Homo sapiens: one gene and its partners. The protein of the gene in region 6 purifies or fractionates together with the protein of the main gene of each other region. This does not show direct contact. Each region holds a gene or a part of one and is shown on either strand. Other genes may lie near its edges. The genes, in order: PDCD5, TM9SF4, FAM167A, PFDN1, PFDN4, TRAF7 and SYNGAP1.

The links.
Region 1: the proteins of TRAF7 (region 6) and PDCD5 purify together in Homo sapiens (affinity purification with mass spectrometry, with the first as the bait; one large-scale study listed by BioGRID). This does not show direct contact.
Region 2: the proteins of TRAF7 (region 6) and TM9SF4 purify together in Homo sapiens (affinity purification with mass spectrometry, with the first as the bait; one large-scale study listed by BioGRID). This does not show direct contact.
Region 3: the proteins of TRAF7 (region 6) and FAM167A purify together in Homo sapiens (co-immunoprecipitation; one large-scale study listed by IntAct). This does not show direct contact.
Region 4: the proteins of TRAF7 (region 6) and PFDN1 purify together in Homo sapiens (affinity purification with mass spectrometry; 2 studies listed by BioGRID and IntAct, with this or other methods). This does not show direct contact.
Region 5: the proteins of TRAF7 (region 6) and PFDN4 purify together in Homo sapiens (affinity purification with mass spectrometry; 3 studies listed by BioGRID and IntAct, with this or other methods). This does not show direct contact.
Region 7: the proteins of TRAF7 (region 6) and SYNGAP1 purify together in Homo sapiens (co-immunoprecipitation; one large-scale study listed by IntAct). This does not show direct contact.

Annotation. Positions count from the first base shown.
Region 1 is NC_000019.10:32,579,876-32,583,989, forward strand, and holds the start of PDCD5 (programmed cell death protein 5), read left to right. Parts: upstream 1-1,314; 5' UTR 1,315-1,386; coding exon 1,387-1,452; intron 1,453-2,319; coding exon 2,320-2,357; intron 2,358-4,114. UniProt on the Homo sapiens protein: May function in the process of apoptosis.
Region 2 is NC_000020.11:32,164,735-32,167,756, reverse strand, and holds the end of TM9SF4 (transmembrane 9 superfamily member 4 isoform 1 precursor), read right to left. Parts: intron 2,463-3,022; coding exon 2,313-2,462; 3' UTR 501-2,312; downstream 1-500. UniProt on the Homo sapiens protein: Associates with proteins harboring glycine-rich transmembrane domains and ensures their efficient localization to the cell surface.
Region 3 is NC_000008.11:11,421,754-11,425,253, reverse strand, and holds part of FAM167A (protein FAM167A), read left to right. Parts: intron 1-617; coding exon 618-881; 3' UTR 882-3,500.
Region 4 is NC_000005.10:140,282,602-140,286,101, reverse strand, and holds part of PFDN1 (prefoldin subunit 1), read left to right. Parts: intron 1-3,500. UniProt on the Homo sapiens protein: Binds specifically to cytosolic chaperonin (c-CPN) and transfers target proteins to it. Binds to nascent polypeptide chain and promotes folding in an environment in which there are many competing pathways for nonnative proteins.
Region 5 is NC_000020.11:54,206,865-54,210,886, forward strand, and holds the start of PFDN4 (prefoldin subunit 4), read left to right. Parts: upstream 1-1,222; 5' UTR 1,223-1,236; coding exon 1,237-1,260; coding exon of another isoform or gene 1,261-1,506; intron 1,507-1,537; exon of another isoform or gene 1,538-1,886; coding exon of another isoform or gene 1,887-2,051; intron 2,052-4,022. UniProt on the Homo sapiens protein: Binds specifically to cytosolic chaperonin (c-CPN) and transfers target proteins to it. Binds to nascent polypeptide chain and promotes folding in an environment in which there are many competing pathways for nonnative proteins.
Region 6 is NC_000016.10:2,154,310-2,158,581, forward strand, and holds the start of TRAF7 (E3 ubiquitin-protein ligase TRAF7), read left to right. Parts: upstream 1-1,472; 5' UTR 1,473-1,549; intron 1,550-4,272. UniProt on the Homo sapiens protein: E3 ubiquitin and SUMO-protein ligase that plays a role in different biological processes such as innate immunity, inflammation or apoptosis. Potentiates MAP3K3-mediated activation of JUN/AP1 and DDIT3 transcriptional regulators.
Region 7 is NC_000006.12:33,447,565-33,451,064, forward strand, and holds part of SYNGAP1 (ras/Rap GTPase-activating protein SynGAP), read left to right. Parts: intron 1-265; coding exon of another isoform or gene 266-278; coding exon 279-369; coding exon of another isoform or gene 370-372; intron 373-1,224; coding exon of another isoform or gene 1,225-1,239; exon of another isoform or gene 1,240-3,500. UniProt on the Homo sapiens protein: Major constituent of the PSD essential for postsynaptic signaling. Inhibitory regulator of the Ras-cAMP pathway.

The DNA of each region.
Region 1 (4,114 bases), on a different chromosome or scaffold from region 6:
TCTCTACTAAAAAATACAAAATTAGCCGGGCACAGTGGTGCACGCCTGTGGTCCCAGCTACTTGGGAGACTGATGCAGGAGAATCGCTTGAACCCGGGAGGTGGAGGTTGCAGTGAGCTGAGATTGAGTGACAACTGCACGATAATGCATTTCATACCACTGAAAAGTACACCTAAAAATGGTGAAAATGGTAAATTTTGTATTGTGTATATTTTGCCACAATTAAAACACACAGGCCAGGTGTGGTGGCTCATGCCTGTAATGTTAGCAGTTTGGGAGGCTGAGGCAAAAGGATTGCTTGAGCTCAGGAGATAGAGGCCAGCCTAGGCAACATAGCGAGACCCCATCTGTATTTTTTTAATGTAAAAAATAAAATAACACACACACAGACAAACAAACAGAATCTGTATGAGTCACACGTTTAGGTAGCTGAATATCCTCTCTGCCCCCAATTCCCCCAAGTCAAAGGCAGAAGGGATTTGTTCCACCAAAGAGTTTACACCAGCCACAGCTGCCCACTGCAGTATCCTCCCAGGAAAAGCCCTTTTGTGCGTGGAGGAGGCAGATGGCGAGGAGGCAGATGTGCACTTTTTTTTTTTTTTTTTTTTTTTTTAGAGACAGGGTCTGGCTGTGTCTCCCAGGCTGGAGTGCAGTGGCGAGATCAAGGCTCACTGCAGCCTCGAACTTCCGGGCTCCAGCGATCCTCCTGACACAGCCTCCTGAGTAGCTGGGACTACAGGTGCACATCACCGCGCCCAACTAGTTTTTTAAAATTTTAGTAGAGATAGGCTCTTGCCATATTGCCCAGGCTGGTCTCTAACTCCTGACCTCAAATGACCCTACCGCCTCCCGAAGCGTCGGGACCACAGGCGGCGAGCCACCGGCCGGCCTCTGTGTGCACCGAGGAGCCGGGCAGCCACCGCCACGATCCAGCTTTAGGACATTTCCATCACCCCACTCAGCCTTCCTGCGCCCCTGGTTCCTCATCTATAAATAGAGATAATATACGCCTAACCCTCTAGGTCACCAGCACATTGCACCCATAATTATTATACTTGTTGATGCCACACTTTCAGGTTTTAACCTTTCCAAAGCGCAGCCCCGCCCCAGCGCAGCCCAAGTCCCTGCACGCAGAGGCGCCGATCACGGGTGGGAGGTGGATCCCGGAGGCCCCGCCCCAGGCCCCGCCCCTCCGTGCGCCCAAGCTCGACCGCCTGAAATCGGGGAATCGGGCCTCTGCCGGCGCCCTGGCAGCGGCGCGGGGCGTGGCTCCGGGCTGGATTGGTGGCGCCTGGGCCCCGCGAGCGCCTGCGCAGTGGTCAAGGCCGCGCTCGCGCCGAGGGGCTGCGAGAGTGACCGCGGCTGCTCCAGCGCTGACGCCGAGCCATGGCGGACGAGGAGCTTGAGGCGCTGAGGAGACAGAGGCTGGCCGAGCTGCAGGCCAAACACGGGGTGAGCGCATCAGCCCCCGCCAGGCTTGGCCCTCGCGGGGCGCCGCCCTCGCCCGGAGTGTAGGGCGCGCCTCCGGGGCGGAGGCTCTGGGCGCCTCCCCGGGGCCCCGGTCCCCTGCGCTGCCCTGGCGGCCTCGTGGCCGGCTCAGAGGTGGCCTCGTCGCTTTCCTCGTCGCGAGGGGCCCAGGAGGCTGGCGGCGGGGGCCGCCACGTGCGGGACCTGCCCTGGCGTTGGGGTGTGGGGTCCCCTAGCCTGGAGCGGGCTCGTCCTGGCGGGCCTGGATCCAAGCACAATCTCAGCTTTTGGAGCCAGCAGCCGGACCGAATTCAGTTTTTCCGGAGTTCAGTTGTTATGACCCAAGTTTAGCCGACAGGTATTGAGGGTCCGCTGTGTTCCCGGTGCTGAGAGCGCGGCAGGGTCGGAGGAACGCTTGCCCCGCCGGGATGACAGGGAGGGGCCGCCTGGGAAGCTTGGATGGATCACACGCCCGGAGAGGCGTTTCTGATAAGGGACCGGGACCTTAGGGACGGAGGGCGCAGTCTTTGAGTTATCGTTGTCCCTAATACCGAGGCCCGTTTTATTTTCCAGAAATTATTCCTACATGTGAAACACGGTTTCGTAATACAGGGATTCCCCTCCCCAGGGTGCTCTGTATTCCAAAGCCTTCTGAGGTTGTGGTTTTAGACGTTCATCAAAACGTTGTAAGTGGGAACTAGTTCATTGATTTCTGTGAGGCCCAGTTTCTTATTTGGGGAGTTGTTTCTACCACCGCAAGAGACTGTTATGTATAGGAAACAACAGAACCGTTCCTTTTTCCCGCCGCCTCCCGTGAAATTTCTCTATTAAATTTAAGTTTTTTTTTTCCAGGATCCTGGTGATGCGGCCCAACAGGAAGCAAAGCACAGGTATGGGCTGGAAACGTGAACTTTTTGAAGGGTGGTTTCACCAAATGGATTTCTTTTGCTGTAGTTATTTTAAGCAGGTGTGTGACTCAGATTTTTTTGTTTTGCTGGAATGGTGATTTGGCCAAAATCATCCGCAGGGTATCTTCATTATTGTTAAATAAACACGTGTGCAGCTCCACATCAGACCTTGTATTGCAATTACTGGTTGATGTTTCTCTGCTACAATGTGAGTACCTTAAAAATGAGCCTGATAATAGGCAGCTGTGGCAGTTTCCTCGGCTGTGGGGGTGACGTGAGTCCGGTGCCTCACTTAGTAAGTGCTCAATAAGTGTTAACTGGTAAGCTATTCTGATTGTTTTATCCCAACACAGCGCACAGCACCTGAGACAGATGCAGGTAATTGATTCGGTGGCAGGTTTATTGAATGAGTATGTGATTACCCTATCATGCTATCATTTTTTAAAAATTGTGGTTAAATAAAATTTCACCATCACAACCATTTTTAAGTGTGCTCTTCAGTAGTGTTCACACTCTAGAATGTTTTCATCTTGCAAGACTGAAACCTTTAGCTACTGGACAATTCTCTATTTCCCCTTCCTCACCTTCTTACTCCTCCTCTCCAGCAAATATTTATAGAGCACCTGCTCTGGGTCAGGCACTGTGCTGGGTCTACAGAAATAGGAAGGGAGGGTTCGGGAGAAGACAGACGGTGAGAAGTATCTGGAGTAGTGATAGGAAGTAAAACGACGCAAATTTCATTGATTTCTGCCGTGTACATCTTTTCATTGTCACATATCTGAAATCAGGATGCCTTTTAAAACAGATTGCTCTTGCCCCAGATTCTTCCAGAGGGGATTTACTTTTGACTCTGCTATCACTTGAGTACATTTCTGAGACCATTGAAAGTTAAATTCTCTGCTTGAGGTTTTCCCCTGCCTCCTGCCTAGTAGTGTGAATTCAGACAGCAACCCTGTAAGACTGAACTTTTTTCTTCTTTACGTCAGGGCCAGGTGCATGCAAGCTTTTGTACTGCCCCTTACTGCATGGCATATTTATTTATTCTTTACTTTGTACTGAGAATGTTGCTCTTTGATACCCCAGTGGTGGGATCAGAACTCACTGCAGCCTCAAACTCCTGCTGGGCTCAAGTGATCCTCCCACCTCAGCCTCCTGAGGAGCTGAGATGACAGGCGTGCACCACCATGCCTGGCTAATTTTTTTAAACTTTTTTTTTTTTTAATAGCCTCGCTATATCACCCAGGCTGGTCTCAAACTCCTGGCTTCAAGTGATCCTCCCACCTTGGCCTCCCGAGAAACCCCAGTTTTGAATGGAGATCTCTATTAGACCTCTCATTTTAGGGTTTTTCATTTTTAGAGATACGTAAAACTATGGTGTATCTTAGAATTGATGGCATCTTAGGGTTCTGTGATATAATAGTTTGTGGCAGGCCAGGTGTGGTGACTGAAGCCTGTAGACCCAGCTACTCAGGAGGCCGAGGGGGAAGAATCACTTGAGCACAGGAGCTTGAGCTGATCATAGCTGCAGTGAGCTGTGATTGCACCACTGTACTCCAGCATGAACAGCAGAGTGAGACCCCATCTTTTTTTATTGTTGTTGAGATGAAGTCTCACTCCATCACCCAGGCTGGAGTGCAGTGGCACAATCTTGGCTCACCGTAACCTCTGCCTCTGAGCTTCAAGCGATTCTCCTGCCTCTGCCTCCCAAGTAGCTGGGATTACAGGCACCCGCCACCATG
Region 2 (3,022 bases), on a different chromosome or scaffold from region 6:
ATAACAGGACAGAGTGACGCCGGAGAGGAGCACAGTGGAAAAGGGGAAAGAGCCCTAAGGCTATCCTTTGAGCCCCTGGATCCAGCCAGACCTGAAGCAAAATAAACAAAATCCTTGATGACTTAAGAACCAATCAATTCATTTTTGGGCTAAAACCAGTTTGACCGATGTTTCTGTTGCTTACAATTGAAGAACTGGGTTTCATAGAGTGAGATGAGCTGACAGTAAAAGACTGAAGCTGGGAATCCAAAACCAGATCTTGCTGCTACCAAAACACACTTGATTGTCATTTCCTGCTTGTGGGATCAGAAGAGCAAATGACTGCAATTTAGTATGGAGGGGCTAGGCAATGGACTTGTACCAGGCAGGGAACAACAGTGGCTTGAGCCCTGAAGTGTGACACGAGAATGAGCTTCGGGGGAAACTGTGCAACTCAACCCACTCGGGGAAGGTGTCTCACCTCAGACCTCCAACCCCTGCATGAGATTCAAGACAAAACAGTAGGACAATGGTATATTTATTTACAATCCGACCAAAAAAAGGCATACAGGCATTTTTTTAATTAAAAATAATAATGATAATGATTTAAAAAGTCAGAAAAATTGATGATCTTTGAACCCTTTATGAGGTGTCCGTTTCCCATTCCCCCTAAAAAGAGAATCTCTTAGGGAAAAAAAAAAATCCAAGATTTGAATGAACAAAAGACTCCAATATCGCTCTCTACTGCTTGGGTTCCCTTTTCTCCAACTTGATGCTTGGTGGATGCCGCTTGGCGCTGCAGTCACTGTGAGGCAAGATTGAGAAATTCACTGGTTTGATGGGTGAGGCTGGTAGAGCCACTGGGAGAATGTGGGGCAGTGAGGGGAGGGACATCTTCCTAGCATCACCAGCATCCTGAGCTTTGTCTTGTGTTGGGAGTCCCACAAGGGCTGGTGCAAGGGTTAGCAGCTGCTACTTGAACCCTAATCCCTGGGTGGATGTGGTCTCTTGTAACTTAAGAGCAAATGTTTGTGATGACATGCACGGGTGGGCAGAGGTTGAAAAGAACAGGGGTCTACGGAGGAGCCAGGCCAGCCACGTGAGACCCTTCTTTCTAAGTTGGCTTCTTGTCCATTCCTGGGGATTGGGGAAAGAACGACAGAACTTACCTTCCATCTTCCTTCTCACAAGCAGTGTTTTGGGTGTCCCCAAAAGGAGGAGGCAAGAACTCAGGTGTGGGGTGGAGGGGATGGGGCTGGCTAAAGAAGTGAGTATGACCCCAGAGGCCAGAGAGGGCAGGGAGAGAATGCCTGGCCACTTACAGGAGGGGATCTGTAATCTCTGGGCCTCCCTGTTCTGCCTGAAGTTGGGCAGGGCCCACTGCTAGCACACCTTGGAGAGCGGTACCTCCTGAGGAAAGGGCTGGGGAGTGATCCTGAGGGGTAAGGACCCTAGCGGCCTTGGCCATCCCTTCCCAGACACAGACAAGTGGATGCTTGGCTTGGGAAATACTTGGCCCCAGGTCCAGGGTTTCTTGGCACAAAAACAGTTCACTGCAAGTCTCTTCTCTTCTTCCTTGTGGTCCAGCAAACTCCGGCTGCTCTGAACAGGGGCAATTCCTGCTGTCTGGGGAACCTGGCCCCCAGTACTTCCAGGGGATTTTCTTGTAGCAACTAAGACTTGGGTTTGCTCCTGGTGAAAAGATGACCCCGAGGCCTGGCTGGAAACCCTGCCTTGGGCAGCCCTGGAGGAGGCTGGGGAGAAGAGGGAAAGAGAGGTCTGGCAGAGGCTGGCTGGCACTGAGGGTGCTGTCCGAGCTGGAGCTGTGCTTTGTCGTGGCCTCAGTGGTGAGGATGGGCAGGGAGAGGCTCGGAAACCTCACTGAAGCTCTGGCGTGTCCTCTTCCAGTTAGTCATAGGGTGGCCAACAGCCCTGAGGAACTGAGGTGGAGACAGTGACCAAAACCCTTATCTCGGTGGATTTATCCATCCTGGATCCATTTGTTAAAACAAAGAAGGAAAAAAAAATCCAAACCAGAAATACACCTGAATAAACAGGTCAGAGAGTTCCTGTTGGAGGGAACTTTCTTAGCACTGAAGAAAAAGCAACCCACAAAAAAACTCATCCCCCACAGAACTGGAATAAGATGACGAAAAACGCAAGATTATCTACAGGCCCTCCCGCCCCCCACGCAGCCCCAGGATCCAGGAACACTGTGCCAGGAGTTACATTCCAAACGAGCAGGAGTTATTTTATTTTGCGTGCCTGCAGTCCCCCACGCAGGGTGGCTTCCTGTCCGAGGACGGAGCAAGCTTGGCCGTGGTCCACTCCAATCAGTCTATCTTCACAGCAGCATAGATCTTGCGAACAAACATGTAGGCTGCATAGAAGCCGATGGTACCCGTTAGCAGCCAGAAGGACAAGACCATGAGGGCCGTGTAGCCAAAGTAGAGGAGAGAGGGGATGAACTCCACGATGTCCAGCTGCGGCCACGAGCAGAAAGAAGACAGGGTGCATGCTTAGTGCCAGGCTGCATGGCGAACTGGGGCCCCACTCTCACTGATATCATGGGGAAACTGAGGCCTGGCCAGGGGAAGGGGCGTGCTCCAGTGGGTGGCAAGCGGCAGGCAGGGTTCATGGGCACAGCTCTGCTTCATCTGGACCAGGCCTGTGTATTGCCCTAATGCTCATAGCCTCAGGGGCCAGGCCCAGAATGCCACAAAAGGAATGGCCACAGCTGTGCCCTTCCTGGTCCCCCACAGACCCCAGATCAGTATGGCAACACTCCCGCATGGCTGGAGAAGCAGTCGGAGTGGGTGGGGGAGGGGAGGGGTGTCCAGGATGCCCAGCTTCAGGACCAGGAGCCCCATCAGCCCGCCTCAGCCTCCATTCATTCCTCTCTTCCCCAGAATGCTTGTCACTTTTGTTAGCATCTCACAGAGATTTTGATCTTGGAGCATTTTGGACTCCTTTTTAACTGGGGTAGAGTTTAGAGGCTGGGCAGAGATGCTGGGGATCTGTGTTATTTACAAAGGGAACTAAT
Region 3 (3,500 bases), on a different chromosome or scaffold from region 6:
CGGTTAACTGTTGCATGTTAATAGACCCAAAGGCCTTAGAACTGTTTCATAATAAAACACCCAGTACCTAGGAACCAATTTTTGTTTGGCTGTTTTGAAACTTTACTAAGAAATATTTCAGGCATTCTAAAACGTTTAAAGAGTAATGTAACAACATGACACTCCCCAGCGTAAGAAAGAAAACATGGCCATCACAGTCAAAGCCCCCATATACCTTTCCCAATCACAGTCCCTCCTTCTCACCTAGAGGCAACCATCCTCCTGAATTTGATAGCTGTTACCCTATGTTTTCCTTTATACTCTTACTCCATCTAAATGAAACTCTAAACAATGAGAAAGCACTGGAAGTATCTTCTAGCCAGGACCAATATGCATGTCTTTCAGAAGGACTTAGATACAGCAACTAGCCTAGCACAAAGTATTGTTTTGCGACCGCACCCTCATTTGTCACCTTGCTTTCTGTGTCTTTTCACCTCCCTGAGCAGGGAAAGTGCTAATATTTCTAGATGGACCACTTAATGAACTAAGACATTAGTCAGGGCCCTGCTAACCAGTCTGTGCCTGTCAGGGACTCGAGCCACTCTCTGCTGACCCTGCCTGCTCCCCCTCCCTTCCAGACGGAGATGCGGCTGCAGGACCAGCAACTGGCCAGACAGCTCATGCGCCTGCGTGGCGACATCAACAAGCTGAAAATCGAACACACCTGCCGCCTCCACAGGAGGATGCTCAACGATGCCACCTACGAGCTGGAGGAGCGGGATGAGCTGGCCGACCTCTTCTGTGACTCCCCTCTTGCCTCCTCCTTCAGCCTCTCCACACCACTCAAGCTTATTGGCGTGACCAAGATGAACATCAACTCTCGGAGGTTCTCTCTCTGCTGAGGAGCCCTCAGACTGGGCGGAGGGGCTGGAGCGGAGGGCTTGGGCTGGAGGGGTGTCAGAGGAAGCTGAGGCCAAGTTACTCCAGTGGGTCTCCCGGAGGCAGGGGTCCCTGGGACTGGCGACTCAAGGGCCCCAGGACCTATTCAGTGGTGCTCTCCCACCCAGGGGCCCTGGGTGTGGATGCCAGTGTCTCTGTGACTGGCTCTTGCTTACTACCCAAAGAGCTCTGCAGAAGGGCCGCTCCAACCAAGATGTTAAAGGAGACCTGGGTTCCCACCATAATCCATCCCTCCACGGTCACGTTCCTGTTTCCTGGAATCACTGGTGCTATGAACTGGGATTCCCAAAGGGAGGCCCCCCAACAAAGCTGTCATTTTTGCAGAAGGCTGTCCCGCAAGGGCCTTGGGGGAAATTAGGCATGTCAGATGTGCCTGTCTCACGTGCTGTTGCTGTCCTCTAAGTATTGTCTCAAATTCACCCTAAGTACATGACTCAGCAACATTGACAGGGAGCTACTAGGAAGGGAAAATCGAAAGGCATGACAAATGGGCACTTGGGGACGCAGCCCCAGTGGCTGGCAGCCAGTGTCTCTGGTGAGCCTGACACTATAAGGCTGTGTAAATTGTAAATTCTGGCGTGTGCTGGGACATGTGATGGGGGCACTAGCGTAGCTTGGGTGCAACAAGCACAGATGTCCCCATTGTCTCCCCTGGCCACATGCATCTCCAAAGAGCCTCTTCACTGCCACCCACACCCCAGGGTGACAGCCTGGGAGACCACTGGTGACTGAACCAGGCAGGTCCTGAAAGCATTTTCCATAACTGAATTCTCCTGCAGGGGCGTGACCGGGGCCTCCTGGTGGATTCTGGTGGTGTCACCTTACTGCCCTCTCTGGAAAGACAATCTAGGGAGCCCAGAGGCCCATCCTGAGCCTCCTCTGAGATTTTGTGCCTGACCTAAACAACTAGTTTTAATAAGACTGTTACTGATGTGTTGTTCACTTGTTAGTAACTGATTTTTGTCCAAATGCGGAAGCCACTTGTGTAGGTCAACTACAGTGCGTAGGATTTGATTTTAAGAGTTTCTCCCTCCCAACAGGCTTGAGGATCAGCAAGTTAAGACCCCAGCAGGTTAGGGAGGTCAGTCTGGGGTCATACGGCATGGCAGGGGTCCCTCGGCCAGACCCGTAGAATCCTGAGATAAGGAGTGTTTCTGACCTTTGGTGTCATCTAGTCGAGTCCTCTCATTAGTAAAGGAGCAAAGTGAAACCTGGGGGAGGAGAAGGACTTCCCTCAGGTTGCACAGCTGTTTAGGCTATAGAATATTGATGTGTGAAACCATTATTGATAATGCCTAGTAGATCACATGTCAATGAACTTGAACCCCAAAGATGGTCGTGATGCTTTGCCAAACCCGCACACTGCCAACCCCTCTACTCTCCACCTCAGCCCCCACCCACATCTCCCAGAGTATTGCAATTCAGAACATTTGGGTCAAGGTGGAGCAAGGCACTGACAGTGGCCCCACAGGGCATGTGTCACTAATCACTGTCCCATGGTCTACGCACGGCATCTGGCTGCTCTGTCTACTGTGACTTCTTCCTGTGTAATCTCAGTGGGGCCCGTGTCCACCCACACATCGTGACCCACATAGGGGAGAGGTTGCTTTTCTTTTGTGGGCTGAGAGTAGGACAATGCAAATGAATGATCTCTAGTAGACAGAAAAGAACTTGGTCTCTTTTTTAAAATTTCAAAGAGCCAGAAGTTCTATGCCTCCTTCAAAGTAGGCAGAACAACGCAGCCAAGATCTACTGTCTGCCATGCTCTGTGCAATGAAGTCTGCAGGCCTGAGGACCATGTACTGCTGTCCTTCCTCAGAGCTCTGCACAAACACTGCCAAGTCCTGAAGACGCATTCCTTTCCTGCCAACCTCTTTCCAGATAAGCCCTTGAGGTCTCGGGCTGACCTACACACACACACACACACACACACACACACACCCCCACACACACACACACGACAGAGAACATGCCATAAACATCCTTGAACCCATGCAGGAAAGCCCATCCCATATTCTGAAAAAATGCCAAATTAGGTTTTTCTTTCTTTTTGGAAATCAGTCATTACAGTAACCGAAACCATTGGGTTCAGCGAAAATGGAAAGATTTAGCTGAATGTAGTCAGTCCAATTAAGTTGGATGCAACTGAGTGATTTAGTTGCTTGGGTAACCCAGTGCTTGCTTGCTTTCTTCATTCTCTGGGTGGAAACTAAGATCAAGACACATGTTTGGGGATAAGTTAAATGTCTGAGCTATTTTGCTCGGTTTATCCTAAGAGAACTTTATTATGGGATGAGGAGGTGACCCAAGATGAGAAGTGGAGGGGGACAGCGATGTTTTCTAAACATCGTCCAGTGTTGACTGGCTTCCTTACTTTGCACAGTGAACACAACTAACCACATTAATTCAGCTTTGTGAAGTCCCTGCTCTCTGTGGGTCTATGAGTCAGCAGCAACATTGGCCTAACCTCCGTCCCAGCCTCCTGGCTCACCACATGTGTACAGTGCTGTTTGCAGTTGTACTCATTATCCATCCATCTCTCTGCCATCCCCAAGCATCGC
Region 4 (3,500 bases), on a different chromosome or scaffold from region 6:
TTTACTTACTTACTAACTTACTATATTGACATCTTTACATGTCAATAAAAAAAATATTTTTTTTTAAATTTCGGTTTGGTTTTTTATTTAATTAGTCATTCTTTTTTAAAAAAATTTATTTATTTTTTAGACATGGGGCATTGCTATGTTGCCTGGGCTGGACTTGAACTCTTGGATTTAAGCAATCCTCACACCTCAGCTTTCTGAGTAGCTAGGACTACAGGTGCATGCCATTATGCCTGGCTGCCCCCTTGGTTTTATCTCCTGTTTTGTATCCTATTTCTGTGCCAGTGTGGATACTTAAGGTCTCCAGGATTCAGCATAAACTCTCAGGATGAAAGCCAATTTACTGCTGTCTTACATTCCTGAATTCCCAGTTTCACTTCACTTTGGACCTTTGTGGAATCCTTCCTTTTGTGTTAGTTCAACAAAATGTTAAAAAAAAATTTTTTTTTCCTTTGTTTCTAATCAGGAGTGTTCAGGGTATCTACTCTTCATTATGCCAATAACAGAAGTCTGTAACTCACTGAGCAGTCCACAATGTGGATGTGCCATAAAGTTTTAATCACTTCCTTACTAAGGAAGTGATTAAAGTAAGAAATAAATTCAATTTAAAAAAATTTTAAAAAAAGAAGTTCAATTTATTTCTACTTGCTTCCACGCTAAAAATTACGACGTAAAAATTCAGTAACTTTCCTCACCAGTGGAGTTAGGCAAAGAAGCAAGATAGGCTCATTCTTTTTTTTTTTTTTTTGAGATGGAGTCTCGCTCTGTTGCCCAGGCTGGAGTGCAGTGGCGCGATCTCGGCTCACTGCAAACTCCACCTCCCGGGTTCACGCCATTCTCCTGAAGATAGGCTCATTCTTATGTCTTTTCTATGCTGCTTAATTTGTGAATACCCTGAAACCTAAATGCTAATAGGATACGTTTTTAGACACCCTCTAAAAATTTCCCACCCAAAGTGAACTCGTCATAAGCATTTTGTTGTTTCTGAATAGCATATGTCTAGGTGACCATACTTTGGAAATTGTGTCCAAAATGCAGCAGTGCAAGTGATCTGGGATTGTGTTTTGGGCAGGTGAACAATGGTTTTGATTCATACTGAGTTATAAGAAAGTGGAAGTTGTACCAAACTGCAGGATGATTTAGAAAACGGAGTCTGATGTTTCTCAAATAATCAAAACCGAAAGTCTCAGAATTATGTTTTCAGATGGCATAATTACAAATAAATGAGGAAGTGAAATAGCAGGTTACAAGTCCTTGAGAGTGGACAGTGCAGAGGCACGTGGCACTGATTTCCAGGTCAAAGAAGAGGCCTTTTGCAAAGCATCAACTCGAATTCAGGTTATATAATCCTGAGTATTTTAAGCATGTTATCTGCATATTATTTGTCATGAGAGAATACTTTCCCTCTTCATGGTTTATTTTTCCTTATTGGTACATTTTGAACTCCAGAATTCTTTATTTACTATTTGGCTTTCCATAAACAATCAGGCAGAATGACTATGAGATTCTCTACATTGAGCAACTGTGTACATAATATTTGCTTATGATAAGACTTATATTATCATGATAAATCCTTTCTCTTCACATAGTATCTGATAATCCAATGCCCTTTTAAACAATAAGAAAGATGTTTTCCAAAGACTTTTTTTCAGAAATCAGATGTTTCTTGGAGCCTTTTCCAGTCTTCATACAATATATCTTTGCCATTTTTTAAATTGAGGACTAAACCAAACTTTCCATAAGTTTTTGTGTTTGAATTTTTACTGTGTAACTACTCTTTGAGGTAGACATTTGCATTTACCCAACATTCATCCTTGTTAAAACTTGCGTGGCTGAGATGTCCTTAGGTTTGTAGTAGTAAGTTGGCCAGCTTCGGTGGAATCTCTCTGGCCTTTGAAGTTGGCACAGTCCAGTATAGCTACCTCAAAGGATATGTGGTCATGGAAAAACGTGTTTTTGTTGTTGAGTGTTCTTGCTTTCTAGTAATTTTATTTTCTGCTCAAGAGATTTAGTATCTGTTCAGATACTTTATTTTTAAAGGCCACATAAGTAATGACTTGACCTCTAATCTTAGCTTTGAAATTTTCCCAGACACTAATAAAGATGATGTCTGATGACCTTTTATTTGAGAATAGTACTCATTGGCCAGCTATCAGTGCTACTTAAAAATGTATATTTTACTCAAAAAATTATTTCCATGGCTAAAAGACTTTCTCAGTAAAATCACACATGTCATGACATAATTTGGTGACTCTTGCACCTTGTTTTAGAATAGTTTTTACATAACATTACTGAGACTTAGTACTGTTCAAAACAACTCTTCTCTTCAAATACAAATATGAGTTAGTTCTGAGAAAAATATTCTGTAAACCATAATCTTATCTGAAATAGCACCCATCTCTTGGATCCAGTAAGAATATTTTAGACATGAAGGGTTCTATAGTAAAAGACCTGGAATTAATCCTTGTTTTGCATGAATGTGGGCTCTCTTTCCTGTAAATATACAGTAAGGTTTTACAAAGAATCAAGTTACTACTGAAGACTAAGATCATCAGTTGGGCTGGGCTGGGCGTGGTGGCTCATGCCTGTAATCCCAGCACTTTGGGAGGCCGAGGCGGGCAGATCACGAGGTCAGGAAATCGAGACCATCCTGGCTAACATGGTGAAACCCTGTCTCTACTAAAAAATAGAAAAAATTAGCCAGGCGTGGTGGTGGGCGCCTGTAGTCCCAGCTACTCGGGAGGCTGAGGCAGGAGAATGGCATGAACCCGGGAGGTGGAGCTTGCAGTGAGCCAAGATCATGCCACTGCACTCCAGCCTGGGCAACAGAGCGAGACTCCGTCTCAAAAAAAAAAATTATCTGGGCTGGCCGCATTAGGATATAAGCTTAATAATTAGTGGAGTAAAAGAAGTTCTTCAGATTTTATTAATATGTGTGGTAAGGCTTAGTTATGAAGAAGAGGGGACAAGGCAGTTTCCTTCCAGGTGTTGGGGCATAGCTAATTGCCCTTTTTGGTCTGTTTTTACTTGTCTTATATCTATAATAACGGACTCTCTTGATAAGAACCCACCTAGGCACAATGATGTTTTTGTGGGGTTGGCAGAGGAAACTGCATGTTGCTACCTTGATGTGTTTTCTCGTTTGACTTTTTGTTAAGAGATGATGTTTAGTTCTTTGTTGCTGAACTCTGTTAGTGCAAAGAGAAGAAAAATCTTGCTTAATTAATTGCAATATTAAATTGAAATATATTTTAGCTTCCTTAGACAGTCCTGAAAGAGATTTGCATAACTGGGGTCTTCCCTTGGTTCCAGTGGAGGGGAAATATTTCAGTTCACTTACTTGGGGCTATAAAAGTTTGTTCTTCCTTTCCCTGAAGCAAGAATTGTGAACATAAAGTCATAAAACAGTTTCAGTGTTAATTTTTAAAACTTCTCCATATTTCCACCCTCATCAGTGGTAAATAATGTGCCTGATGTAAAATGGAAAAAGTTGA
Region 5 (4,022 bases), on a different chromosome or scaffold from region 6:
TTAGAAAATATAGTTATTTTTAAAGTGTGATTTTTATTACCATGGAATGGAGTTTTATATTATTTTAAATGAATTAATAAATACATTTTAAAAATTCTGCTTTAATTTCTAATACAGCAAATATCGATAAATAACCCACATAAACAAAAGTTCTTTGGAGTCCTCAGTAATTTCCAGGAGTATAAAGAGGTCCTAAGGCAAAAAAAAAAAAAAAAATTACTAATTGGGAGACACAAGTGTCAGAATATACAGTAATTGTTCAGTAATATTGCTGTAAATTAATTAATAGGATTGCCTAGTCACAACAGCAAAGGCATGGAATCAACCCAGATGCCCATCAGTGGTGGATAGGATAAAGAAAATGTGGTCCATATACACCATGGAATACTATGCAGCCATAAAAAAGAACAAAATCATGTCCTTTGCAGCAACATGGATGCAGCTGGACATCATTATCCTAAGTGAATTAACACAGAAACAGAAAACCAACCACTCATGTTCCCACTTATGAGTGACAGCTAAACACTGGGTACTCGTGGACATAAAGGTGGGAACAATAAATGCTACGGATTCCAAAAACGGGGAAGGAGGCAGGGGAAAGGGGTTGAAAAATTACCTGTGGGGTACTATGTTCACTACTTGGGCAACGGGATCATTAGAAACCCAAACCTTAGCACCATGCAGTATATCCATGTAATAAACCGGCACACATACCCCCCGAATTTAAATTAAAAAAAAATTACATTAAAAGATAGGAGTACCTCCTTTACACCACCTGAATTATCATGGCACATAAATCTCACACCCTATTTGCCAAGGCCATTCGTTCCTAGCTGTTTTACAGGTAGGTTAGCTTTCTCAATGCAAGTCTGTGGGACGGATGGAGAAAAATTCCCCGAGCCCTTTGATCCTGCCCCAGCTGGGCCCCGCCGCGCTGAGCCTTGGGCGCGCCCCCTGCTGCCCGCGGCCGGAGCCGTTCGCCACACCCCCGTGTTTATGTCGGTCCACGGGGGTTGCCTGTCCCTTTAATTGGCATGTACCAAGTCCTTCCAGGTCACATTTCCTCCCTACGTCCCAGCCGTTTGGACTCACTGGCCAAAAGTCCAAGAGGACGGAATGTGGAGACAGTGTTGTATTTTTGCGGGGAGTTCTAGGCCGACCGGGAGCGAGAGAACGCTCGGGGGCGAAGCGCGCCATTGCGGCCCTCCCCGCCGCCTGCGGTAGTCCAGTCCCAAGATGGCGGCCACCATGAAGAAGGCGGTGAGTGGGGAGCTCGGGGCTCTGGATGCTCGGGCGGCGCCGGATCTCGGCCGCTGGGGCCCGGGCGCGGGATGCTGGGGGTGCGCAGCTCCGAAGCCCGGCGTGGGACCCGAGGCCGAGGCCGAGGCCCTGAGAGCGGTCCCGCGGCAAGGCCTGCTCGCGCCTGGCGCCCTGAGCGTTTTCCTAGGCACCTGGCCAGCCGAGGCGGGGCGCCGGGGCTGGGGCCGGGAGCCTCGAAGGACGCAGGTCCGCCTCCCGCGATGCCGAGGGTGCCCCCGGGGAGTCTGAGGAACCTGCAGCCCCGGCCTCGCCCCTGAGGTGTGGGAAGCCGAAGGTCCCGTTGAGTGTGGTTGGCCTTGACTCGGGCGTTGCACCGGCATGATCGCATTAGCCTCACTGGTTATGGGTAGCTGCTGCTGGGAGCGTGGTTACGGGTGAGGAAACTGAGGCCCAGAGATGGGGAGTCACCTGCCCGAGGTTACGCAGCTCATAACGGGGACAGCAGGTTCCTGCATCCCCAGATTAGCAGGCCCCAGAGACCCTGTGTCCAACCTGGAGCTGCCCATTTCCACGCTTGATGCCCCTGAGTCCTTCAGGCTAAAACCAGTATTTATTGAGAATGGAAGATGTGCCGGGCCCAGCAGCCGGCCGTTTATCTGTTATCCTCCCCGCAACTCAGCAAGTGCAATGGGTTCCTCTCCACTTTGCAGGTAGAGAAACTTAGACACAGAGCAGTTAGAGGCCCTAAAGTGACTCAGCTAGTAAGAAGCAGAGCTGGAGTTCAAACTCAGGTTTGTTTTTGTTTTTCTCAAAGCACGCCTGTGTAACCACTAAGCCGGCTAAACTTCCATGTGGGGTTTTTAATCCCGTGAGCCTTCCCAGATGTGTAAAGATAGTCAGATAGAAGAAAAAGAAAATTGGAGAGGGGGAAGGAGATAACGGCTGATAATTTGGGGAGCTTTACAGTGTGCTAGGTACAGCTGTAAGTTGTTTTGCGTGTATTGTTTATTTTATGTTCTTTGAGGGAGATACTGTTTTTATCCTTATTTAACAATGAGAAAACAGGCGCGGAGGCAAAGCTAGCATTTAAACACAGGCATTCTGACTCCGGAGTCTGTGTTTTAAACTGCTATAGGGGGTCTTTGATGAGAATCTCTTGGCTGGAGGGATTTGCGTTCATTCCACTTTTAAGACCACATTAGAACTTCTTTGCTTTGCCCCTATCCAGTACCACATAGTCTATGCCATCTGTGCCTGGTGTAGGGTGACCCATTGCCCCCTTTTATATGAAATTGAGGGACTGCCAAAAATGGGAAAGCCCCAGCCAACTCAGGATGTGTTGCTCACCCTACTATTCTGCCATCCAAAAATTCTTACTGTGTCCCAGAGTAGGGTCTAGGGCCATGGTGATTCAAAAAAGTATGAAACTTTGTGAGATTCACTTCACCTCTAGTTTGTTAAATTGGGCCCTCTGGTGTTAGGTATGGCCTTTAATTCCTTGGAAGATACTAGTTGTGGTTCACTCCGTTTTATAGGTATGGAAACTGAAGTGCAGAGAGGTGAAGTAAATGGTAGAAGAGGAAATGGCAGAAGAATGATTTGAACCTTGGATTTTGATTGCAAAATTTCTAATTACCAACTTTTTTTTTCCTTTCATTGATTCAGTAAATTTTCGGGGGCACGTAATATGGCGTAGTCTCAGTTTTAAGTGGAGACAACTGTGGTGACCAGTGAGAAAGCTCTTCTCCCCTTAATCTCATAGCCCCAAAGAACGTATGTTCCAGGGCAGAGCAGGCATTACTCAGATAGTCAGACAGAAAACTAGTTTCTCTGATGAGAACTGTGAAGGAAAAGTGCTTATGAAATGAGGGCCAAAATGAGGTCTGTTTTGAGATCAGAGAAGACTTTCCTGGGAAAGTGCCATTTAAGTTGAGATCTGTGAGATTATGTAAGGAAAGGAAGGGAGAGTTGGATAGGGAGCGAAGCATTCTAGAGAGGAGTATCTGCAGAGACTCTGAGTGCATTTAATACAAGGAAGGCCCGATGGCAGATAATCAGGGGAAGAGAGTTTGAGCCATGATGGGAAAAGAACTTATAGAGGGGTAGGTGGTGGCCAAAATATAAAGGAGCTTCTTTAACTTTGGAGGCTTTAAGAGTCACATGATAGATGCAGTGTCCTCCTGTAGATGTTTCCAGTGTTAGGAACAATTCCCGATAGATTAGCTTGCATGTACACTTTTCCCCTTTGCCCTCACTAGGAGAAAACATATGTGTATGCCAGTGAGTGAGAGTGAAACAGAGAGAGATAGCCCTTTGAGTTTAATTAAAAGCAAATCGTACAATCTGGAGTACTTTACGTTTGTAACACATCGTATCTCTCAACTGGTCATGACTTTGCTGGGGAGAGTGTTTAGATGAGATGATTCAGTCCTCTCCTCTCTAGAGTTCTGCCTTCTAAGATCCAGTTCTTGACCATAAGGAGATCTGCACTTTGATTTCTGTTCATTATCCTATATACAAATGTCCTTTCCTCAGAGAGGCTACCTTTGACCTTTATCTAAAGAAGCCTCCTTCACTCCCCAGGCCCCCAAAACTTTCTACTCCTAAGCTGTTTTATTTTCATCATCACGTTTGTCACCATTGAACATTATCTTGTTCATCTTGTTTTTTGCTCTCTTCCTCCACCAGGATGTATGCTTGCCATTTGTATTCATGAAAGTGGGATAGTGGCTCTCTTGTCACAGTGCATGGCGTATAGGAAA
Region 6 (4,272 bases):
TCCACAAATCTCAAAAGCCTTTTTGGACTCACCCTGGGGCAAAAGGCATGAAAAACAGTATTTGACTGGGCGTGGTGGCTCACACCTGTGATCCCAGCACTTTGGGAGGCTGAGGTGGGCAGATCACCTGAGGTCAGGAGTTTGAGACCAGCCTAACACGGAGAAACCCCGTCTCTACTAAAAATACAAAATTAGCCGGGCGTGGTGGTGGGCGCCTGTAATTCCAGCCATTTGGGAGGCTCAGGCAGGAAAATCGCTTGAGGTGGAGGTTGTGCCATCGCACTCCCGCCTGGGAAACGAGCAAAACTCCGTCTCAAAAAAAAAAAAAAAAAATCACGGGCAGAAATGGAGAAGGCAATCCCAAGAGATGAAAAGTCACTGGTAACGAGCTTCCGTTTTCATGTCTGTACCCTTTTCCAAGATTGCCTGTGGATCAGCCAGACCTCTGGGGTGCCAGAATAGGAAAATAAAGACACTTGAGAGAAAACCGAATCAACTCACTACCTTTCTTTATTGCTAAGCACTTCAATAGACACAGCGCCCACCTTACCGCTAGGCCCTCCGGATTGAGGTTTACTTAGGTTCAAAACTTGCAGCCGGCTCGCGACGAAACCTGAAAGTCAGCGCCAAAATACAGACATTAAGTCCCCACTCCTTCGTTTCGGGCAACACCTGTTTCCACTCTCAGCTCCCCGTCAGGAGTGCGCACCCTCAAGCCTCAGTCTTGCTAAATAATCAGACTGCACGTGCAGTTTTCATACGAGGTGTCAGAAGTCAAAGCAATTCATCACAGACTGGGAGAATAAGGGAACCCAAGCCCGGCCCAGTCTTACCTGCAGGTAGCTGAGGGCCTGAGATTCGGGAAGAAACCTTTAAACGCTAAGGGACAAAGTGGTGCGTAGGCCAGGCCTGGACGCCCAGGGACCTGGCCGGCCTGCAGCGTTCGGACGGCCCTCAAAGCCACGCTCGTGGCTCAGTTCGTCCCAAGATCGTAGCACATGGCGAACGTATTAACAAACCTCTTCCCCCTCGGACTCGACCCCGAAAAGACAGGGGCGGGCGAGGCTCAAGCTTTTATAGAAACTGTCCCACCTCTGTCATTGGGCTATCCTGGCGGAAGTGCCCGCCTTCCCCCGCCGCTGGTACGCTCCGCTCCCTGCCGCGTTGTTTCCACCAATCGTACCGTGGCATTTCTTTTGGAGACGGTCTCTCAGACCCAGACCCGAAGCTCCTCCCTTATGCAGAGTCCGTGAAGCCTAACGGTGAGTGACGGATGAACAAAGCCAATCAGACTTCGATCTGCAACATAGAGTGATTCTGAAGCTGCCATTCCCGCCCCGCGACGACGAGGCCGCCGGAAGTCGTAGTTTCGGAAGTGCGGCGCGTGAGGCAGCCGTCCGGGCCCGGAGAGGCGGGGAACTACACGTCCCGGCGGGCGCAGCGGCCTGGCGCTTCCGGCTCGCGCGTCTAGTCCCTTTCCCGGCCGGCGGCCGAGGGGGCATCATGAAGCGGGCTGGCGGCGCTGCCGCTCCCGGGCGGCCGCGGGCGGGTGAGTGTCCCCGCGGCGCGCCCGACCCGGGGCTCGCGCCTCGGGACCGCGCGGTGGGGCGGGATCGGGCGCGTGGAGATCGAGGCGAGGCGAGGCGAGGCGAGGGGTCGGGCCGGGGCGGGGAGGGGGGGGCGGGGCTGAGACGGTCGGGGTCGGGGTCAGGGTCGGGGTCCGCGTCGCTGTCCGTCCGCCAGTCAGTAGTCCGTCCCTCGCTCCGTCCTGTTCTCGCGCAGTTCTTTACTCATTCCTTCTTCCTGCATTCCCCGAGACTCCCGGGTGCCAGGCACTGTTCTGGGCGCCGGGAGACCGCGGAGAACACGGTCCCAGTTCTCCTGTGCTCGGCGTCTGCTGCAGGGTTCCCCAACCTCCGCACCATCGACCACGCGGCCCGGGTCGCTTTTTGCTGCGAGGAGCTGCCCTGTACATTGTAGGATGTGGAACAGCTTGCCTGGCTCCTGGCCGCTAGATACCAGTAAACACCACCCCTTCCTCAATTGCGATAACAAATGTCTCCATGCATTGGCAAATGCCTCCTGCGGAACAACTCCCCCCATCCCCCATCTAGACAGACAGGGTGGTGGGATTGACAATAGGTAGTTAAAATCATGGGGAGCAGCGGTATGTGCTGTGAAAGAAAGAAAGAGGGTGCTGAAAAAGTGAGTACTGGCCGGGGGTAGGGGCGGCGCTACCGTTAGCCAAAGGCCTGTTGGAGAAGCAGCCAGTCCCAGGACATGCAGGAGGAGCATTCCAAGTAGAAAGAGCCAGATGTACATAGGCCTGGGGTGAGAAGGGGCCTGACGCACCCCAGCAAGCACTGGCAAGTGGAGAGGTGAAGTCGATGAGGCCGGACCAGGCTCACAGGGTGCATGGTGGGGTGGGGCGGGGGGGTTATTATGCTGGCAAATGACTTGGGGTTGAGGAAGCGCTGGAGAGGCGGTCCGATCTAGGTCCAGTAAAGAGCTTTCTAACTGTGTGTGGACCACAGACTTCAGAGTTCACTGGGGAAGCAGGAGAGAGGGAGGCTAGGCCATCGTCTCCTAGTCCCCACTGGGGTCCTGCTGTCAAGATACGGTTGTCTTGAGCCAGGCCAGAGTGGTCAGCTGGGGTTGAGTCTGGAGTCCAGGGGCAGGGGCCTGCTGGAGCCCACCCTGCTCTTGGGGGTGAGGGGCTGCTGGCTTGCTCAGGAATTTCATGCCGCCCAGCCTGTCTGCCCACCTTTCTCACTACCCCTCAGACCCCTTCCTGGGCACACACAGGCCCCCTAGCCCTCGCCAAGTGAGGAGCCTCCCTCTTCCTCATTCCTTCTCTTTGGGCCTCTCCCTTCCTAGACCCCTTCCCTGTGCCTCTCTGTTGCGAATATCCTGACTTCACTGTTCTGGGCATTCATAGTTCTCTGTGGAAGCCTCGGGCCCCGTGTCCTGAGGGGGAGCAGTGGTATGGGCAGCCTGGCCTAAGGAGGGGAGGGGCTGGGAGTCAGCACCCCAACCTGACGCCCCAACCTGAGGGTCTCTGGTGAAGTGACTTCCACCGTGGCCCACTGGGGCCAAGTGTTACGATATTTCTGGAAGTGAATGGAAAAGTTCAGGGTCTTTGGCACCCACCGAAAAGTGCCTTTGGCAGATTGAGTGGCGATTGGTGGGGCTCCTGCCCCTCTGTCTGCCTGTGTCCCCCACAAGGCTCCTAGCTCCTCCCGGGTCAGATTCGTGTTCAGCCGTCACACATCCCCACCCTCCCGCATGGGGCCTGGCACCCCGTGGTTGGTGTGACTCTCGGCCAGCTGGTTGGACAAGGAATGAGCAGTTTGGGGAAAGGAGGAAGATGCAGTTGAAGAGCCTCCTGGCCAGGAGGCCTGGGCAGCCTGGCTCTGGGATGCAGCCACTCCCCGGCTTGGCATGGGACTGGCTCAGGCGCTGCCGGGGCTCCTGGATGTGTGGCAGCCGTGGACGAAGCAGAAGGAATGTGACTCTGGTCACAGCGGCACAGCCTGCTGGCTGTGTCCCTGGGCCGGCCTCTCCGCCTTCCTCAGCCTCCATGGTCCACTCAGCAGAGGAGCTGCTGTCTGGGGTGCCTTCACTCTTGACGGATCCATCTTCTCTCGGCTCCTTCCAGACAGGGTTCTGGCTCTATTCCGTTTTTCGAGAAGCCCGAGGCCAGGAGGGCAGGTACACAGCTGTGAAGTGGTAGAAGTGGACTTTGAACCCAGCTCTGTCTGAGCCCAGTGCCTGTGGCCTTGACCACGGTGTCACAGCATCTCCTGGATGGACACCCTGCGGGGTCAGGGAGGGCATGTGGGGAGGGCCGAGAGCTGTTGGCTGCGTGTGTCTCAGTCCGGCCTTCTCAGTGGGTGGGCACCGAGGACTTCACCAGGCCCTCTGTGTGGATCATGCGGGGGGAACCTGTGGAGAGGGACCCACCAACCCCTTAGTCTTTGACAGATCCGCTGCTGTCCCCAGCCTTGCTCCCTGGAGGAGGAGGGTGCAGCCAGGTGGGGCAGGTGAAAGGGGAAAGCGGGCACTGGAGGCTGGGGCTGGTCACGTGTAGACCCGGACACCCTCACCCGGCTGGAGGAAGCCGGCTGCCTGGAAACTCGGGGTGGAGGTGACCCAACCCCAGAAGCACCCAGGTGGGAAGTAGGGGGCAGCGACGCAGAGGGCCAGGACTGAGGGCCGTGGGACGGTGTGGGAAAGGAGGTGGCAGTGCGGTGGCACGCTGGCATGAGGGCG
Region 7 (3,500 bases), on a different chromosome or scaffold from region 6:
CACTGCTGTCCTGATTGGGACGATGGAGGCCTGGAGGTGTCTGGATGGTAGAAGTCTTTGAGGCACAGAAAGCTGCCTTAGCAGGGAGGTGTAAGGGTTCCTGGGAGGAAGGTGGAGAGCATGATCCTGAGGAACAGGGAGTCTTGCATCACGGCAATGGAGGGACTCTGATTCTAAGGGATAAGGATGCCTGAGGTTTTTCCAGAGAGCTATGGGGTTCCATGGGCAGGCTCTGAGCCTGTGCCCGCCACTAACCCCACTGAAGCCCGTCCCTTCAGGCTGATGCTGGTGGAGGAGGAGCTGCGCCGGGACCACCCCGCCATGGCTGAGCCGCTGCCAGAACCCAAGAAGAGGCTGCTCGACGCTCAGGTGGAAATTACAATGTCATTTATCTTCTCCGTGTCCCATCCCCATCCATCCCACTGTCTTTCGTGCACTCACTACACCAGCCACCTAGCCCCATCACCATCTGTCTCTCATAGTCTGCTGTTTGTCCACTGGCTGCTCCTGGCAGCCCCCTAGTGACCCCATCTTCATCCCATCGTCTGTGCCTTTGTCACTCCTGGCAGCGTCAGCCCAACTCCTGTGCCTTCCCATCCAGTCTTCCCACTCCTCTCTGCATCTCAGGACCTTCTCTACCAGAACCTTGGTCTTTCTGCCCCTAGACCCCACCTAGTTCCAAGAACCCCTGCCCCTTCTTTGCTCACTCCTATTCAAGCCACGTTGTTCAGCTTCCTCTGCGCTCTTGGGCCAGAGGGCTAGAAGCTGCCGTTTTCTGGAATAGAGCACAGGGCAGTATGATCTGTAGTTTCTCCAGGCCCTGGCCGGTACCCTGAAAACTTGGGGACCCATCACCTCTGTTCTCTTGGCTCCCTAATTTTCCTGTCTCCTTGGCAGCTCCTGCATAGCTTCCTCTTCCTGACTCTTCAGATCTTGAAGGCCTTCCATCCTGTAACCTCCCTTTGCCCTCAGTATTTAAGTCCAGCCTCCCTCTGGCCTCCCTCCCACTCTGGCCCTCAGACCTTCCCAGCTGCCTGCTGCCCAGCCTCTCTTCTCACAAGCCAGCTTCTAGGACCTCCCTTCTGCACCCTTACCCCTTGCTTTCCCAAAATTCTGCTCATTTTCCTACCCATACTCCTCTTTGCTCTGACTGCTAGGCTCCCCCCGCCTGCCATCCCCCCACCAAGGCTCCTGACCCCATGACCCCACTCTCTCCCACTGCAGCTCCTCATCAGGTAATTCTCCTGGTTCCGCTTTGGCCACGGGCGGAGGACACAGGGGGAGGTGACTCCGGACCACTGCAGGTTGGTCGTGAAGCCCACTCCCTCCAACACCTCCGGAGCCTCTCCCCTCTCACTGCTGCCCTCCACACCCAGAGAACCTCCACAGACTCCAGCCCTCCGACACCTGCACAGATCCATCTCCCAAGACACCACCCAAAGAGAGCATTTGCTGCTGCTTCCCAGAACTGTCCAACAATACCTTAGCAACACCAAGAGTTGGGCCCTAGATGGGCCCAGCACATTCACAGGTCACACCCACTTCCCTGCAAAACCCACCCCCTCCCAGCCTCCTCCTGACTCTAAGCCCTCCTCTTCCTCTACCTCTCCAGTGTATGTCTGTCACCCCCCATTTCACCAGAGCGTCCTTAGGGGCTGGGGGTGGGTTTGTTAATGGGGTGGAGGCAATGATGGGTTGGAGGATCTTGGCTATAGGGGCTGTGCTGACTGCAGCAGGTAGGTTGGGTTTCCCTCTTCCTTCCCTAATCTTGGTTCTCTACCCTCCTTTCCACTCCTCACCTGATTCTCTCTCTTCCTCCTCCTTATATCTGTGAGGCAGAAGGCATCTGAAGCTCATATTAGCCCCCATTGGGTGGGAATTAGGAGTGGGTAGTTAACTCAGGGAGACTTGAGATACCCTGGAAAAAATGCTATTGAGATGTCCTGACATTAGGCAGGGTGGATGGAACAAGAAGGAGCAAGAAAGGAACCTCAGGCAGATGTTAGGACATGGACTTGATCATGTGGCCTGGGAGTTTAGAAATGGGGAGAGACATCCTCCTAGATCAGATCGTGGGCTCAGTAGGCATGTTGATTCCCAGGGAGAGGTGCCAGGAACAGCATGGTAAAGAATGTACTCTTCACAGCTCACATCCCCAGGTTGCTGATGCCACTCACTCCCCCTCTCCTGCCATCGAGTGGCCTTGCCGGACACATCACCCTACCTAAAAAGCCAGTAAATGAGAACCTGTCAGCTATAGCCATCATTTCTGAGATGCGATTTTCTTTGGGATTGAGCTGCAGTGGGCAGTGGCTCCTTACACTGTAATTTTAATTCTCTGCCTGCCCAGCCTCTCTGTCAAAGTAGCTGGTGATCTATAAAGATGCTAAAAGGCACCAGGGGACTTTGCCATTTAAAGGACTCCTGCAGTGAATTCTTTTGTAAAATGAATAATGGCACCCTAATTTATCCACTTTCTAAATTTGGGTCCATGGGGGTGTCCAGGGCATGCTTATGTGCTGTCACCAGCAGACAAACAGAGGGAATGGAATCTGGGGGTTCCTTCCCTGCTCTCCCGCCATACTCAGGATACCCTACCATAAGTGATTTCCTCTCACTGACTTGCAGAAAATGTGTGAGATACCCAGCAAGCTAAGAAGGCAGTTTTGCTGGGTATCTCATACCCAAGGCTGGGGTTTGGGTGATCTGAGAGGTTAGCTCCTTGATCCTAGGATGGAAGGGAGAGCTTATATAGAAGCTTTTACTTGGAAGGTTTTGTATCCTAAGGTCAGACATAGCTATATTACCAAGCCTAAATGCCATGTGGCCCAGGAAATAATTTGGACATTTGTTCTAAACCACTTGTGGTAGGTATTGGTCTCTCTGCAACTCAGCCATTAATTAGAAATTAGTTTTGAGCCTGAATTTTAAAAAGCCAAGTGTTGCCCCCAGCCCACACACACACACACGGACATGTACAGTACAAACCCCAGATAATTACAACAGCCAAAGAGAGAAGGAAGTGAATTTCCCAACCAGAAGCGTAGGGAAATTCAGATGGCTTTCTTTTCTCCCAGCAGAGGAACAGAAGGCGGAGCTAAGGGCAGGAACCAGGAGTTGGTCAAGGAGCTATAGGAGGTGATGAGAGTAGAACCAGGGGTAGGAGCTGGTCTGGTACCCCTCACCCTCTAATTGGGAGCCCAGGGAGAAGGACTGAAAAGAAGATGGGAGTGGAAAAGAATAAAGCCAGTTTCTGCTTCCCAGGGATGCAGAGATTGGGGCATGCTGTGTCTGCAGAAGCTCCTAGTCATTTCCGCCATAATTGTGAGAGAGAGGGGCAGCCCTCCCACAAGATTTTTCCCTTCCCATATCACTTCCCTGAATCCCCTTCCTTTCCCCCCAGTACAGTTAAACCTCTCTCTAATTTGGAATGTTATATTTGAGAAGATGGCCACTGTGAATAAGTGACAAACGGAATGACAGTGTCTATTTAATGAAAT